Linked DNA regions of Homo sapiens: all the other regions are reported to be linked to region 1. Evidence: microRNA targets listed by miRTarBase, many of them from high-throughput screens and not tested one by one. Region 1 holds a microRNA gene; each other region holds the end of a gene's coding sequence.
Evidence for each region. Region 1 holds the annotated microRNA hsa-miR-3175 (CGGGGAGAGAACGCAGUGACGU, at 2,480-2,501, opposite strand). A microRNA usually pairs through its seed, bases 2 to 8, with sites in the 3' UTR of a target mRNA and lowers its output. Matches are read on the target gene's strand: a 7mer-m8 pairs with bases 2 to 8, a 7mer-A1 pairs with bases 2 to 7 and ends in A, and an 8mer does both.

Region 2: the mRNA of NPLOC4 is a reported target of hsa-miR-3175. Seed matches in the 3' UTR shown: 7mer-A1 at 1,371-1,377.
Region 3: miRTarBase lists FOXC1 as a target of hsa-miR-3175. Seed matches in the 3' UTR shown: 7mer-m8 at 1,303-1,309 and 7mer-m8 at 2,195-2,201.
Region 4: miRTarBase lists CSTF2 as a target of hsa-miR-3175. The part of its 3' UTR that is shown has no 7-base or 8-base seed match.

The regions. Positions count from the first base shown.
Region 1 is chr15:92,902,655-92,906,908 of GRCh38, reverse strand. MIR3175 (microRNA 3175) reads right to left here and starts at 2,510; the gene lies at 2,434-2,510. The region is part of intron 2 of CHD2 (chromodomain helicase DNA binding protein 2); the gene reads right to left. RefSeq lists enhancers at 2,217-2,456, 2,737-2,916, 1,778-2,977 and a silencer at 2,617-2,666.
Region 2 is chr17:81,555,415-81,559,668 of GRCh38, reverse strand. NPLOC4 (NPL4 homolog, ubiquitin recognition factor) reads left to right here. Exons shown (of 17, transcript NM_017921.4): 17 at 253-2,782. The coding sequence ends at 410. LOC124904085 (a long non-coding RNA gene) reads right to left here. Exons shown (of 2, transcript XR_007065947.1): 2 at 2,350-4,254. Among named protein-coding and RNA genes, the nearest start is that of FAAP100, 5.2 kb to the right of the region's middle. RefSeq lists enhancers at 1-456, 457-958.
Region 3 is chr6:1,611,167-1,615,420 of GRCh38, forward strand. FOXC1 (forkhead box C1) reads left to right here. Exons shown (of 1, transcript NM_001453.3): 1 at 1-2,731. The coding sequence ends at 941. Among named protein-coding and RNA genes, the nearest start is that of FOXC1, 3.4 kb to the left of the region's middle. RefSeq lists enhancers at 2,461-3,078, 3,079-3,695.
Region 4 is chrX:100,837,441-100,841,694 of GRCh38, forward strand. It overlaps CSTF2 (cleavage stimulation factor subunit 2), which reads left to right. Exons shown (of 14, transcript NM_001325.3): 12 at 1-9; 13 at 799-924; 14 at 3,274-4,080. The coding sequence ends at 921. Among named protein-coding and RNA genes, the nearest start is that of CSTF2, 19 kb to the left of the region's middle.

The DNA of each region.
Region 1 (4,254 bases):
GAACTCAACGCTTAGTCAAGCTGAAGTGCAGGAGGGAGTTACTCAGCTGTGACACACCCAGTGTAACCAAGCCACAAAGTTACTTTCACCTGTACACAAAATACTCTTAGAGGAATTTTTTTTTAAGTTTCTTTGTTCAAGTGACACCATATCAAGAAAGCCAAGTTCTTCAAGGAAGCAAAGTTCTAAGGTTACCAAGAAGCAGCTAAAAACTAAAGGATCTTAAAAAAAAAAAAAAAAAAAAGATGGCTCATAGCAAGAAAAAATTTAATGGCTGACACAGAGCAGTCACTCAATTTTTATACCAGAAACAAACTTAGTGTATCAAATTTTATGGGAGAAATGATAGGAGTTTGGAAATACCAGGTGGTCTCAGGAGGTCTCTCATAACTGTCAGTTGTTTTATTTGGGGGTAAGGGAGAGTAAACTAATGATAAAATCTGTGAGTTTTAGTTAAAATTCAAATAAACTTCCAGATTCACTCCTCAAGCAATAACTTGCTACAACTGTCACAACCAAAAGTCTTTATCAAAAATATTATTTGCCCACCTTCCTCTGCTGACTTAATCTTTACAAAGATACTAACTCCCTAACGGCCAAATACTAGTTGGAAAGTGCATATTTTAAACGGCAAGGATACAGAGAGAGAGAGAGAAAGAGAGAGAAATCGATCAACACTCTTTTCTTGCTGCTTGATGCTATTCCCCACATCAAAGGGAAAAAAAGTAGAAGGCTCAACAAACATACCTAAGAACACTGGTTCTATAAAAAACTTAATTGGCTGCAAGATTGTCAACAGTTAATAGGTAAATTGTTATATCATGGTATGCATTTTAACTCATAATGGTATTTAGGTTAAAATATCTTAAATAACAGAATAGTTCATATCCTCTTCAAAAATAATTAACTGCAATGTTGACTACTTTGACCCCAGTTTTAGGAATTGAAAGGTATTCAGCAAATACTATTAACACAACTAATTAGAATTCAGTCTCTACACAAAAAGGGAGGTGAGATTATTACTTTCGTTCTTGTGGCAGGTATACTTTAAGTTGGAAGCTACAGTTAAACGTTCATCAAGTTCTATAAACACTTAATTCTCTGTTAGCATTTTATACGCAATATACATTTGAGCATATAATTTTAAAATCAGGTACAAATTATTTGATGAACACTTCTCTGTAACAGAAAAAGCAATTTCAGCTAGTTTTCACAAACTATCCAAATAATTCTTCCCAAAGAACCTAGATTATGAGAACCTACAAAACTCACTATCATAGTGAATTCTAACTTTCACAGACTGTATTCAGAAACTTGACATACGCCCAAGCAAATATCACCTGCACTGAAGGGTCAACATCTCCTTTGAAGTAACACACTTTACTAAAATAACTCTAAACTATGGCTAACTACAGGACAGCCTACTCCAACTGCTAAAAAAACTCTAGTATGGCAGGAAAAAAACTTTGTCCACAGTAGATAAATCCACTGAATTTCTTGCTTGCTTAAATTCAGTATGTGTAATTTAATTATTAAGACATCGTTGCTGAACGATGAAGTTTTAACCAGAAATCCTTGTAAAGGTTTCCAAACAAGGCAAATCAGTGAGCATAAACCCAACCGTTTACCGGGACTCAGAATTCCCGAAATGGAGGCCTAGGGAAGATAATTGCGAAGATTTGGCCAAGTGACCCCACTATCAGCCAAGCTGTCAGTCACCCTGCATTAGCAAGTGCTATTAACACTTAAAAGAGTAGTTTTCTGACATTTACTTACATAGTAATGGTTGCCTAACGCTGTATTCTGCCACTTTTTAATGTTATTGAACGTGAAATTTTCTATTTTCTACTAAACTATCCCACTGTGAATCTTAAATATATAGTACTTAGCACATACTGACCTGAGTTTTTCTCCATCAAATGCCAACTGAGAAAATGTACGGTACCAAGTAAAAACGCATGGGGACAAGTTCAAATAATCTTCCCTTTGTTTATGAGCCATGTATTAAACAGCTGTTAACACCCGTCAAGAGGTTTTCACTAAAATAAAAGTATCCGCCTCTGACACTCAAACGTTTTGGTCAATTGTAACAAAATTAAACCCACTCATCTCTTCACACTGAACGGGGGCGGGGAGAAGGGACGCTAAGGTATGAAAAGGGAAAATGTAAAACTGGGCAAATTTTCTATTTTAAGATTTCCAAATAGTGCCTTTAAAATTTATAAATAGTGCCTGCACTTTTTCTCCAAAAGCAGCCGCTTCTCAAAGAGGATAAACCATTCCCGGAAATGGGCAAAAGAACACACTACAGGGTGCGGACCGCTACAGGCAAGGGCGGACAAGACTGCCAGGAGCAAACGCGTCCAGGAAAGAAGCCGCCCACCGGAAAGTCCCAACTAGAGTTCCCTTCCTTTTCCCCTCGGCGTGCGGCTCCCTGGGTAGGGGGAGGAGAAAGCGCCCGACATGCGCACGCGGCCAGACGTCACTGCGTTCTCTCCCCGCCCCCCAGGGGAGCCGTCTGACGTCACGGGGCGGAGGCTGCCGAAGGCGCCGCCGTTGACCCTGCTGTTACCAGGCGCGCGCACAGCCAATCAGCACCCCGCGCCGGCGCCGGCCGGCCTTTGAACTCGGCACGGCAACTTCCTGCTGTTTGGCGAGTACACAGTGCAATGCAGTATGTCTGTCAGCGCTGCGGCACAAAGGAACAGCCATTTTGTGACTGAGCTGGACCTGCATCAAGATGCCAGGGGCTCAAAGAGCTGCTGCGTGCCCTATCGAACTGCCTTTTATGTCGGCACCAGAGTTCCCCAGAAGAGCAGAGAGGGGGAAGGAAATAGGCTTTGGTATTTCAGATTTCTATTAGTTTAGATTCAGTCTTCTCCAAAATCCCGTTTTTTAATGTATTATCAGCGTCATAAAATGGCTGCCAGTTAAACTGCCTGTTCTAGTACACAAGTAACTGCATTATGCCATTTCTAATCATCCCCAGCCTTTTAGAATATCTGGTAAAGCGCCCCTGAAAATTGTAGGATTTACCCGCACCTCAGGTTATAAAAATAAATCTGGCTCAAAGGCAGACGATTTGGAGATAAATTTAATAAACTCGTTCAATTCTTAAGATAAATTGCTAACGTGGTGCCGTGGAGAACACACTGAACTCTTTGTGTGCACACAGTCCCGTTTTCATTCTTTGATGTTACTTAAGTTATCCCCAAGCTGCAAATTATTCAGATAAAAAGTATGGTATACTTCTCGTATGTCCATCATTAGAACTTTGTTTTAAATACTTAGAAATTTTACAAATATCAATCAAATGTTTTTAAAATCGCGTTTTTTAAAGTTTTTAATTTTCAAAAATCGTGATAAAGTATAACAGACTTTAGCATTAACTTCAAATTAAAATACAAACTTATATAACCACTATTAACTACTGCACTATTTCCAAAAACAGGGTATTACCAGATTTACCTAAACTTGCACTCATTCTTTCCAGATACTAAAGTAATTCTCAGACCAAAGTTTACTTGACCTGCAAACTCATTTCCTCTTCTGTGGCTCAGGCTGCAAAGGTGATTTTCGTAGTATTCCCTAAACACTATACTTTGGGCAATAAAAACTCTGATGGCAGAAGGAACCAAGTACTAATTACAGGGACAGTTCAGCTCAGTAGAAGTAATATTAATCTACCACATTAAAACACCACTAACATTCTACAGCTGCACATTTTAAAAGGAAGTGATGTCATAATTATGTACATGTATTAAGATATGAAATTTAGGGTAACTAATTTAAAAGTAACTATCTTCTTTTCAAAGAGTCTTAAATATTTTTGGACATCCATCAGGTATATGATTCAAAGTATACTTGACAAACCAATTTAAAAGTACAGTCAGTACATGCTTCATGTACAGCTGTAACCTCCACTACCAGTAAGCAAATGCCTGACAACTTCCAGGTAGTTTTCCAGGTGAGAGTAAAAATACTGAAAGAATACCAACACTGCTCAATTTTTTAGAATTAGAAAGCACAGTCTGATCAATGATGTTAACCACAAACCTTGCATAAGAGAGCCAAAACCCATGTGAGACCTATGCAAATGATACACTCAAGGGAGCAACAATTTTAGTGCTGAATCTTTAATAATTTGCCAAATATATCTGGAGGTTCTCATTTCTTCAAATTGTCATTACTTTCCAGAAAAAAACAGCTTAGGATGAGTAAAAAACTTTTCTGTCCTCAATTTAATCTAGTAAT
Region 2 (4,254 bases), not on the chromosome of region 1:
CCCTCTGCAACAAAAAGGAACCAGCAAGCACAGGCTCCCTGTTACTCCCTGTGGTGCAGGAGGCATTTTTCTGAGGGCATTAAGCACTTCAAAGTGTGCCTGTGGTGGGAGTGCTGTGTGGGCAGGACCAGCACTGGGTGGGATGTTGGGGGCGGGGAGCTCTCAGCTGCCTGCCCCTGCCCCCATGCCCACACTCTGGCAGTCTCTGGTGGGCCAGAAATGATGAGTGCTCATTTCTCTTCCACCCTGCAGGCACAGTTGGCGGGCAGCTCCCAGGTCTCCATGAGTACGGCGCCGTCGGGGGCTCCACACACACGGCCACTGCAGCCATGTGGGCCTGTCAGCACTGCACGTTCATGAACCAGCCAGGCACAGGCCACTGCGAGATGTGCAGCCTCCCCAGGACCTAGGGCGCCTGCCCTCTGCTGGCTAGGACCGGGCCCAGCCCAGCCCTTCCTGAAGCCAGAAGCGTTGCTGAGTGTGTTCCCTGTAACTGCCCCATAGTGGGCAGCCCTGGAGGAACAAGGGGCTGGCTGTCCTGGGCTCCCTGACCCACTGAAGCTTCTCAGCACGTTCCTCCCTGGAGAGCGGGCGCCACGGCTGGTATTCTGCAGGCTGAATGCAGTCTCCAGACTGGAAACGCAGAGCGGCTCCTCACGCCTAATCCTGTTGACAAGTCCCCCGCCGTGTTGGAAAGACCTCTCGCCTCTACGTGGCACCTGGAATTGGGGCGCACAGGGAGGGGCCGATGCTGCCACCACCCAGCCTTCTCTTTATTTTCAGTGCTTTTTGTTTGGCCTCCCTGCCCCCATGTTTTTCTGGCTGGGAGCTCTTGGTTACCCCCTTGTCTGACTGCTTGGTGGCAGGCACCCTGCCTGTGAGGGCCACTTTCCTCTTCTAGTAGCTGTTGTCTGGTGGGGACGCAGTGGCCCTGGACACGGCTCCCCTCTGCAGGTCTGCAGGTCGGTTTGCTGCCTGCCCTCCTCCTCTCACCCGATGTCCAGGTGGGATTTTAAAGTCTGCATTGGTTATAATAACAGTTATCAGTAATTCCTGCCCAGAAGACTTTTATTTATTTTTTTTTAAGATAAAAACTGCACAAAAGGGGAGTGAGAGAGACTAGTTTCCACATCCTTCCCTCCTTTAGTGAAGCCCCCGAGGTTGTGTCCAGGGTGATGAGTGTGGACGGGGGCACCAGTCAGTTCTCCCTTGAAGTAAACCTCAGTGCCTGAGACTTTTCTACCAAGCCACACAGCTGCAGCAACTGCAGATACTGCGGGCTGAGCAGGAGCAGTGGTGGCGCCTGCCCTGAGGCTGCCCTGCGATGGCCTGGGTGGGAGAGCTGGGTCACCGGTGCCGATGCTCTGGCCCTCCCCAATACGCTGCTTCGTCCCACTGCACCGCCTGGCTGAGGGCGTTAGGGGCTGTGCCTCTTGTGAGGGCCATTTGGGACCTCCCTGGGGCACTGCACAATTGATAGTGTACCAATAGAGGGAGACTGGGCGATCTGGAACAGCACGTGGTGGGGTCCTGCTTGTGTGCTCTGCGTTCCTCTGTGGCGTGGCCAGGCCGGGGCATGGCTCTTACCCGGGGAGTGGTGGGCATCTCGATGCTTCTTTGCCTTAATGATGGCCACATCTGGGCTGCTCTGCACCCACGGGAGAGGCTGGCCCAGCTGCAGACTGCTTAGGGACTTCTGTGTCCATCCTGGGGGGTAAGCCCACGTGACCCACATTCTTGGCACTATGAACAGAGAACATTTGCCTGTTGGCTTCTGAAGTGGTCAGGGCCATGGCTGACACCTCCAGGTCCGCCTGGCATGGGACACCAAGTGGAAGGCCCAAGCAGCTCATCTGCTCTTGGGACCAGGGGCCAGTTGGGTTGGGTCTGGTCACGGCAGAGCTATTGTGGAGGGTCAGGAAGGGTGGAGAGGAGCTGGGTTGAAGCGGACTGCTGCGGATGCAACTCCCAGCTTGCCCACCGCGGGCTGTCTGCTCTCCCTCCTAGCAGCTGTCACACTGAAGTTTTGTCCTCTGCTGTCTCCTCTGGTCCTGAGATGAGCTGTGAGCCTAGGTGGCCAAGGCTTCCTGCATTGCTTCCCTGTGAGTCCAAGGCCTTCCCCCACCACTGGGCAGAGGCTGGACAGCACGGACTTCTAGAGAGAGCCGCGTTGCCAGTTCCTCTCCCACTCGCTCGTCCTTATCCACCACGCTATTATAGTTTCCGTTGTCCTCCACCAGCATTTCCCTTACTCTGAAGTTCCGGCATTCACATCATTCATGTTTTCTTTTGTCTTTTAGCTAAAGGAAAAGCATTGGCGATTTGTCTGATTCTGGTTTTGAGTTACTCTTTGTTCAGTAATGCACTTTATTTTATTGTCCAAAGAGAGTCAGAGCTAAGCATACAGGCTTGGGGGTGAGCCCTGCTGTGAGAGTTCAGGCCCTGGGAGGCTCAGCCACCTCCTCTTGTGGGAAGGAGGTCTCAGCCCCACCTCGCATCTTCACCTGCCCTTGGTGTGGACACACCCTCTCATGCTACCAGCACCATAATCCAGTGGGGGTGACTGGGTGCACACCTGCCCAGGTGAACACAGCGGCTGCCAGTCTCCTGGTCCCGAGAGGAGGTGGGGCCTGGCCCTGGCTCCCTCCAACCAGCTGCTCCTGGGACACAGGTGCTCCTGCTTCGGCTCTGTTTCGGCTCACAGGTGTGCATCACTGGGCTTGGATTTGCATTACATTGACCCCAGCCCTGCAGTGGAACCTAATAAAAGCGCCTGAAGCAACTGCCTGGTCCTGGTGTGTCCTTCCTGCGCACTCAACTGTTGTCTGGCATCTGCTCAGTGTGGGGGGATTTGATAACTTGTCTCCAAGATATCACTGTTTTACGTGTATGTGCATGGTCCATTTAAAGGTGGGGATCCCACTTCCCCAGCCGATCCCTCCCAACCTTGGCTCCTCGATAAGTTTCTTAAAGTGCTAACATCTGGGGGAGGAGGAGAGTGCGTCAGTGTTTGACGGCCCCGCCGCCCTTGGGTGCCTCTTCTGCCTCTGCCGCACCTGTCAGCCCTGCGACTGCCCCACAGTCACTGCTTTGTGGACAGGTACATGTGGTCAAACAGCAGGTGAAGGACAAAGCCCAGGAAGGCCAGACTGCACAGGTGCAGCAAGGAGTGAGGCCTGGGGGTGACACACTGCCTGTGTTCCTGCTTGAGCTGTCTTTCCCTGTGACAACAGAAAGCGTCTAGAACAAGTGCTCTCTGAGCCTCAGATAGGAGCCTGGCAGTCACTGTTCAGCACCACTTTGTCCTTTGGTCAGTGACTCATAGCTGACTTGAGCAGTTACTAAAAAAAACTCCAACTAATTTCTGAAGGAGGGCCCTGGGGTGAAGCAGGCCACAGGACAGTGACCAAGGTGTCCTGGCTTCTGGACTCCAGGAGCGAGAGGGTGAGTCCCCCAGCACCCGGACTCCAATCCTGCACCTTCAACACAGTGCAGTTCACTCGATTTACCCACAGCTCCTGGGATCGCTTGAGCCCAGGAGGTTGAGGCTGCAGCCAGCTGTGATCGCAAGTCCAGCCTGGGCCACGGGGTGAGACCCTGTCTGAAAAAAAATTTAAAAAGCTGAGGTGAGGAGGCTCGGGGAGGTTGTATCAGAGAAAGCAGCAGCCTGGGCCATGCAGTGAGCCAGTACCTGATCATGGCCGTCTTATGTGAGAGCCAGTGAAGATCCTTGGCATCCTCTTTGGTTCGATGTAAAGATAAAAGCCGGGCGCAGTGGCTCACACCTGTAATCCCAGCACTCTGGGAGGCCGAGGCAGGTGGATCACCTGAGGTCAGAAGTTCTGGCCAACCCGGTGAAACCCTGTCTCTACTAAAAATACAAAAACTAGATGGGCCTGGTGGTGCACACTTGTAATCTCAGCTACTTGGGAGGCCCAGGCTGGAGGATCACTTGAACCCCGGGGGCAGAGGTTGCAGTGAGCTGAGACTGTGCCACTGCACACTCCAGCCTGGGCAACAGAGCAAGACTGTCTCAAACAAAAAAAACAAAAAAACTGGGTGTGGCAGCTCACACCTACAATCCCACCACTTTGGGGAGGCCAAGGCTGGTGGATCACTTGAGGTCAGGAATTCAAGACTAGCCTGGTCAACATGGTGAAACCCAATCTCCACTAAAAAATAGAAAAAATTAGCCAGTGTAGTGATGTGTGTGCGCCTGTAATCCCAGCTACTTGGGAGGCCAAGGTAGGAGAA
Region 3 (4,254 bases), not on the chromosome of region 1:
CCCCGGCCGCCGCCCTGGGCAGCGGCAGCGCCGCCGCGGTGCCCAAGATCGAGAGCCCCGACAGCAGCAGCAGCAGCCTGTCCAGCGGGAGCAGCCCCCCGGGCAGCCTGCCGTCGGCGCGGCCGCTCAGCCTGGACGGTGCGGATTCCGCGCCGCCGCCGCCCGCGCCCTCCGCCCCGCCGCCGCACCATAGCCAGGGCTTCAGCGTGGACAACATCATGACGTCGCTGCGGGGGTCGCCGCAGAGCGCGGCCGCGGAGCTCAGCTCCGGCCTTCTGGCCTCGGCGGCCGCGTCCTCGCGCGCGGGGATCGCACCCCCGCTGGCGCTCGGCGCCTACTCGCCCGGCCAGAGCTCCCTCTACAGCTCCCCCTGCAGCCAGACCTCCAGCGCGGGCAGCTCGGGCGGCGGCGGCGGCGGCGCGGGGGCCGCGGGGGGCGCGGGCGGCGCCGGGACCTACCACTGCAACCTGCAAGCCATGAGCCTGTACGCGGCCGGCGAGCGCGGGGGCCACTTGCAGGGCGCGCCCGGGGGCGCGGGCGGCTCGGCCGTGGACGACCCCCTGCCCGACTACTCTCTGCCTCCGGTCACCAGCAGCAGCTCGTCGTCCCTGAGTCACGGCGGCGGCGGCGGCGGCGGCGGGGGAGGCCAGGAGGCCGGCCACCACCCTGCGGCCCACCAAGGCCGCCTCACCTCGTGGTACCTGAACCAGGCGGGCGGAGACCTGGGCCACTTGGCGAGCGCGGCGGCGGCGGCGGCGGCCGCAGGCTACCCGGGCCAGCAGCAGAACTTCCACTCGGTGCGGGAGATGTTCGAGTCACAGAGGATCGGCTTGAACAACTCTCCAGTGAACGGGAATAGTAGCTGTCAAATGGCCTTCCCTTCCAGCCAGTCTCTGTACCGCACGTCCGGAGCTTTCGTCTACGACTGTAGCAAGTTTTGACACACCCTCAAAGCCGAACTAAATCGAACCCCAAAGCAGGAAAAGCTAAAGGAACCCATCAAGGCAAAATCGAAACTAAAAAAAAAAAATCCAATTAAAAAAAACCCCTGAGAATATTCACCACACCAGCGAACAGAATATCCCTCCAAAAATTCAGCTCACCAGCACCAGCACGAAGAAAACTCTATTTTCTTAACCGATTAATTCAGAGCCACCTCCACTTTGCCTTGTCTAAATAAACAAACCCGTAAACTGTTTTATACAGAGACAGCAAAATCTTGGTTTATTAAAGGACAGTGTTACTCCAGATAACACGTAAGTTTCTTCTTGCTTTTCAGAGACCTGCTTTCCCCTCCTCCCGTCTCCCCTCTCTTGCCTTCTTCCTTGCCTCTCACCTGTAAGATATTATTTTATCCTATGTTGAAGGGAGGGGGAAAGTCCCCGTTTATGAAAGTCGCTTTCTTTTTATTCATGGACTTGTTTTAAAATGTAAATTGCAACATAGTAATTTATTTTTAATTTGTAGTTGGATGTCGTGGACCAAACGCCAGAAAGTGTTCCCAAAACCTGACGTTAAATTGCCTGAAACTTTAAATTGTGCTTTTTTTCTCATTATAAAAAGGGAAACTGTATTAATCTTATTCTATCCTCTTTTCTTTCTTTTTGTTGAACATATTCATTGTTTGTTTATTAATAAATTACCATTCAGTTTGAATGAGACCTATATGTCTGGATACTTTAATAGAGCTTTAATTATTACGAAAAAAGATTTCAGAGATAAAACACTAGAAGTTACCTATTCTCCACCTAAATCTCTGAAAAATGGAGAAACCCTCTGACTAGTCCATGTCAAATTTTACTAAAAGTCTTTTTGTTTAGATTTATTTTCCTGCAGCATCTTCTGCAAAATGTACTATATAGTCAGCTTGCTTTGAGGCTAGTAAAAAGATATTTTTCTAAACAGATTGGAGTTGGCATATAAACAAATACGTTTTCTCACTAATGACAGTCCATGATTCGGAAATTTTAAGCCCATGAATCAGCCGCGGTCTTACCACGGTGATGCCTGTGTGCCGAGAGATGGGACTGTGCGGCCAGATATGCACAGATAAATATTTGGCTTGTGTATTCCATATAAAATTGCAGTGCATATTATACATCCCTGTGAGCCAGATGCTGAATAGATATTTTCCTATTATTTCAGTCCTTTATAAAAGGAAAAATAAACCAGTTTTTAAATGTATGTATATAATTCTCCCCCATTTACAATCCTTCATGTATTACATAGAAGGATTGCTTTTTTAAAAATATACTGCGGGTTGGAAAGGGATATTTAATCTTTGAGAAACTATTTTAGAAAATATGTTTGTAGAACAATTATTTTTGAAAAAGATTTAAAGCAATAACAAGAAGGAAGGCGAGAGGAGCAGAACATTTTGGTCTAGGGTGGTTTCTTTTTAAACCATTTTTTCTTGTTAATTTACAGTTAAACCTAGGGGACAATCCGGATTGGCCCTCCCCCTTTTGTAAATAACCCAGGAAATGTAATAAATTCATTATCTTAGGGTGATCTGCCCTGCCAATCAGACTTTGGGGAGATGGCGATTTGATTACAGACGTTCGGGGGGGTGGGGGGCTTGCAGTTTGTTTTGGAGATAATACAGTTTCCTGCTATCTGCCGCTCCTATCTAGAGGCAACACTTAAGCAGTAATTGCTGTTGCTTGTTGTCAAAATTTGATCATTGTTAAAGGATTGCTGCAAATAAATACACTTTAATTTCAGTCAAAAACTGCTCTACGTGGCCTGTGATTCGCTCGGTCCCCTCCCCCAGGGTCGTAACCTAATCGCCGGGAAGATCGCAGCGGCGCTGGCGCGGGTGTCTCCTCGGGGCAGGCGGGCTGGGGGTGGCCTCACGGCCCCGTTTAAATCTCGCTGGGCTGTCGCGGCGCTAGGTCCCGGGGCTGCCTCCAGCTTCCTCGGGTTACAGCCTCTTTCGGGGCGGGGGAAGGGGAGGGGGTGACGGTAGAGACTCCACCGCCAGTCTCCAGGAGTTTGGTGTGATCGCTCCACTTTGGGGAGCCCGGCGAGGAGCTGGGATTTGCGGACAAAGGGCCCGCGGCCGGAGCTGGGGTGTCGAGGCCCGGAAGGGGAGCTGCAGCAGGTGACTCACGGCCCTGTCCCCACGGGCGGGCTGGCCCAGCCCGAGGCGGAGCAGCTCGGCCGCCGGAGACGGTACCGTTCTCGACGTGTCCGGTCGGACTCTGTGGAGTAGGGGGTGGCGGGTGGAGACCCGCGCGGCCCACGCCTGGCTTTCCGGCTGGGGCGTTTCTCGCAGGCCCGGTCCCTTCCGAGTCGCGCCCGCCCCGACGCCGGCCTCCTGGACGCCGCTCGCGACGGCAACGCTCTCCAGCTAATGAGCTGTAATTACCCGCGGCGGCGCGGGGCCCGGCTTCGGTTTGCGTTTGGAGCTCCTTCCTCCCCACACCCCCCTCCCCAGATTAGCCCCGGCCTCCGCGGCCTCCTCCTGAAATTAGTCGTTGGAGAAAAGCGAGTCAAAGGGAGACCCCTGTTAGTTTCGCTGGGTTCCTCGCGGGCTGGGTCGGGGTGCCGGGAAGCGCGCGCTGAGGGAGGGTGGCAGGCGCGCGGTGCCGGGGACGGGGACGGGGCGGGGGGCGCCGAGCCGGGAGAAGCGCCCTCGGGGCTCCGGCCGAGAAGCTCGGAGGAGCCCGCTCCCTCGCCCGGTCACCCCGCGTCTCCGCCTGGCGCCGCAGGGCCCCGCCGAGCTCTCACTTCCTCCTCGCTGGCCTCCTTTGTTGTGAAGACGCACGTGTGTTTAGGAGCGCAGCTGGGGTGGAAAGGTCAGAGGCACTTCATTGCTCACGGGTGACAGCTCGCCCCGCGCCGGCCCGCAGCCTCCAGGCGCGGGACCCGGAGCTGCGCGTTTGCAGGGCCACCCCCGGCCCACCCGCCTCGGCCTGGCCGCACCAGACCTGCCCGGGCCGGCGCTGCGGCCCCAGGCGGCCTCCCCGGCAGGGCTGCGTCCTCGCGCGGTGTGTGAGGTTTGCAGAGGCCACCAGTCGCTTGGCAGTGGCCGTGCGGGGAGTCGCTCGGCCTCAAGGATGCCAGAAGCCCTCGGGCGAGCTGCAGGCTCAGCGTGTTCCGAGCCCACGTGCCTGCGACTCTCCACTCTCCTTGGGTCTCGGCTTTGCGGCCCGGAGGAGGTGGCGGCCGCAGTCAGCCCCGGCCTAGGCCCAGGTCGGCAGTGGAAAGCTCGGCGGGCTTTTCTGCACCGTTCCCAGCGGCGGGAGCGAG
Region 4 (4,254 bases), not on the chromosome of region 1:
CATGAGAAGGTAAGCAACACTGTCTGACTGCCTCCTTATGCACAATTCTAGCCTTTTTGATTCCTCTTTTCACAGTTACCATGTGACGATCCTGGGTCTTCAAAGTCCCTTTGGAGGTGATGTTTATTCTAACTTAGAACTCTTTTATGATCTTGTTACCTGAAAATTTGTGAGTCTGGTCCTGAAGTTCCTAATGGATGTGAAGTTCTTAAGTGGATGTAAATGGCAGCTTATTTTATATTTCACACTCATCTGCCAATAGCAGGTTTTTCTTGTTCAGGCCAGATTGACCTGAAAATCCACACCCTTTTTCCTTCCCTTTCTACTTTATCCCTAAAAACAATAGTAGATTCCCCATGATTATATCTTTCTGTTTTTATATTTGACCATTGTGGGGAGCTTATGTCTGATGGAAAGGCTAAAATTTGTGAAAAAGAGAGACTTTCAAAACAGGATTAAAACTTGAAGGATTTCCAGGGCTCACAGATACCATCTTAGTCTCCAGGAACTTTGAGTTCATGAAGTTGTCTGTTTTGAATCGTCTAATCTTAGGTATTTTAATTTATACTTGTTCTTTTCATTGTACCTTTTCTCACCAGTTTTTTTTTATTTTTTATTTTTTTTGGAGGGGGGCTGTTGGTTTTTTTCTGTGTGAAATGTTCTTCCTTTTTCCATTTTGCTTCATATCCCACTACAGTAGCTTTTTGGACAGAAGCTGGTGGTGGGTTTTTTGTTTTGTTTTGTATTTTTTAGCTGCCATCATTAAAACTCACTACCTTTTTTTTTTCCTCTGCACAGGCTGCTTTGATTATGCAGGTTCTACAACTGACTGCAGACCAGATTGCCATGTTGCCTCCTGAGCAAAGGCAGAGTATCCTGATTTTAAAGGAACAAATACAGAAATCCACTGGAGCACCTTGATAGGTGAGCAAACTTAATCCCCATCTGAGTAGGACTAGCTCCTTGTCTATTCTGGGTATATACTTTTAACCTTAACCAACAAGATTGTTCTCTCAGCGGCCCTCAATCCACTCAGCTAGACTCTTCTTTACCCTTCAGTAGGTCAGCTCCTGTAGGGATAGAGTAAGGCTATACAATGTTTGTTCAGTTGTTGAATTGCTTATAATCTTTCCTAATGACAAAGGTAATGTATGATCAGTTTAACAAAAGTAATCATATACAGAAATGTAGAAGGTGAAAGGTAAAAAGCCCTGTTTCCTCAATCTCATTCCCCAGACAAAACCTCTAAATATAGTTTGGTGTGTATCCTTCTACAATCAATTGTATTATTTTATTCCAAACTGTCCTGTCAAAATGGAAAAATACAAAGCATTTCAATAAAATGTGTAAATATTTTGTTTCTTGTATTTATTTTATAGGGAATATTTTGATGTTGAACTATAGTAGCACATAATTTAAGGTAGTAAATGTCCGTCATCACCATCAGTTTCTATATATTTTGGAGATCGCTGTACCCTGCTACCCTTATTTTTCTTGCTCATCATTTAGGCAGAAAGAATCCAGGGGCCAAGCACAGTGGCTGAGCCCTGTAATCTCAGCTTTGGCAGGCTGAGGTGGAAGGATTACTTGAGACCAGGAGTTCAAGACCAGCCTAAGCAACATAGTGAGACCCCATCTTTACAAAAATTTTTTAAAAAATTAGCCAGGCATGGTGAGATGCGCCTATAGTTCCAGCTACTTGTGAGGCCGAGGTGGGAGGACTGGTTGAGTCCAGGAGGTCAGGGCTGCAGTAAGCCATGATTATGCCACTGCACTCTAGCCTGGGTCACAGAGTGAGACTCTGTGTCAAAAAAAAAAAAAAAAAAGGATCCAGGTAACCTGCTTCATAAATAATCATGTGACAACTTGATTACACATACATGTATCAGTGTTTCTTTTTTAAAAAAAATTTCCCCAGCATTTTGTATTTTATAAACAGTTCTTTTTTCTAAAAACAGTTTAAAATTCATGTTGCCCCACTATCAGGTAGGACAGCACAATTTAAATTTCTACTTTTTACCCCATCCATATTATAATTCCTATTCTTATGTTATATAATAGTGAACTCATTTAACTATTAATAATTACCACTCTTACAAAATATATCATTTTAATCCATACTTGTGATGTCTTTAAACATTTAAACTGCGACTATGCATCATATATGTATTTAGACCTTAAATGAATTAATGAGAAGCTATCATAGATAGAAGGCTCAGTAGACTTTTGGTACCTTAACGTTTTATTCCACAAACCCCACATATTCTTTTTTTTTAGTAAAAGTATAGACTACCTATTACATTCAGAGGAATAAATAAAAATTATTTCTTTTACTAATTTACTTAAGCCAGAGAAGGCATTCCCTACAATGTGAGAAAATTACTCCTTACTGTTTCTGGATAGTAGAGGTAGAAATGTTTCTGAAATTTCTTTCATTATAGTTTTGCTTATAGGATGTTTAATTTAAGGCCTTGCATATTAACCACAAGGCAAAGTTTTTGTCTATTTTTTTACCTTTTATTTTTAAATAATCATAGACTCAAGGAAAGTTGGAAAAATAGTACAAGGAGTCTCATGTACCCTTCACCCAGTGTAGTGCAAAACCAAGAAATTGACATTGGCACATTACTGTTAACTTGACTGCAAACTCAGTTTTCACCATTTTAAAAAAACTATCATGATTTGTGTATATGTATGTGTGGTTCTATGCAATTTTATGTGGGCAAGATTTTATTGTGTGTCTACTGGTGTTTGTGCATACCATGGCTAAAGTGTTGGGTTTTCCTCCATCCTATACCTAGCTAGTTGTGATCCATCTCTGCCATCATGGACAGGCTTCTATACTGTTGTCATTAGAGATGAATGGTTCTCAAACAAGGGCAGTTTTGCCCCCTAGGTGACATTGTCTTGAGACGTTTTTGGTCATCACAACTTTAGGGAGTATGGCATGCTACTGGCATTCAGTGGGTAGAGGCCAGAGATACTGCTAAACATCCCATAATGCACAGGATGGTCCCCCTCACCCACTTCCCAATAGCAACTAGTACTCCAGCCCAAAATGTCAGTAGTGCTGAGGTTGAGAAACCCTGCTGCAAGGGCTGATTGCTTTGAGGAGTCAGGAGGCAGGAGACAGATACTTTGCAAATCTGTCCTGGTGATTTGATTATATGCCTGTCCTCCCTCCCCTAGCCTTTTTATTTTTTTTCCTGAAGTTTTTCCGGAAGAGAGCTTTGTCTTCACTTCTAATGGCTTTGTCCTAACTTCTTCTTACAGGTTTTCAAAAATACCTGGCAAGAAATCTGGAAATTCTATAATTTTGTTGAAATATTGAAAAAAGATGACCTGCATCCTAACCCTTGAATGACTCAAATCAGTGCCAGGTGGAGGACTCCCATCACCTTCTCTCAGAACAAAATCACTTCATTTTATTGTCTTAGTTTGTATATTTTCTGTGACTTGAAATAAACTTTGAACACAATTTTAGTACACTGCAAATTGATACACATGACCTTTTTGCTTTTAAAAAGCTTAACACTAAGGGTGAAACCTTAGATGTGTTTTCTACCCTTACTGCAGTATTGTACTTTAACATATTGCCATAGTTTTGTTTTTAAGTTAACCACTTATTCTTCTTGATGATATTTGAGAATTTCTCAGAAGCAATGTTTTCTGGAACTTGGTTTTTGTTTAGTTTGCTTCCAGTAAGAATTATTATAAGGCTTTGCCCTCTGAAAATATTCTAGCACTTCGGAGTCTTCTAGGAGAAAATATCACATGCTTAGAGCTATAAAATGGTCAGAAGGCTAACAGAGCAAAGAGCCTAGCACAGCTGTGTGTTTAGTTTAGAAAAATCCAAATATCAAAATGCATTTGTTTCAATAGCAGGTCTGAACATGTATAATTCAGAGTTAAGACAAAAATTGTTTTAGCACTGGTTTGAGTGTGTCAGCAACACAAGAGACTGTTGACATTTACTTGTGTGTTCTTAAACTTATCAGTCTAGGCAGTCAACTTTGAAAGTTTAAAAAGCCACTGATTTTTCACATGCTCAAGATGAAATAAAAACAGAAATCAAATGAACAAAATACATTTCATCCTATCTTCCAGGCAGTCCCTAACCTGCAGCCCTACCCTGTAACTACGTTTATTCTGGGAACTTACAACACAGAAAACCCTAAAACTTGTACATTCTTCTCATTTTAAGTGGACCAAATGTAGAGCACAGTCAGATTGCTCATTAGGTCTGCTCCTGCC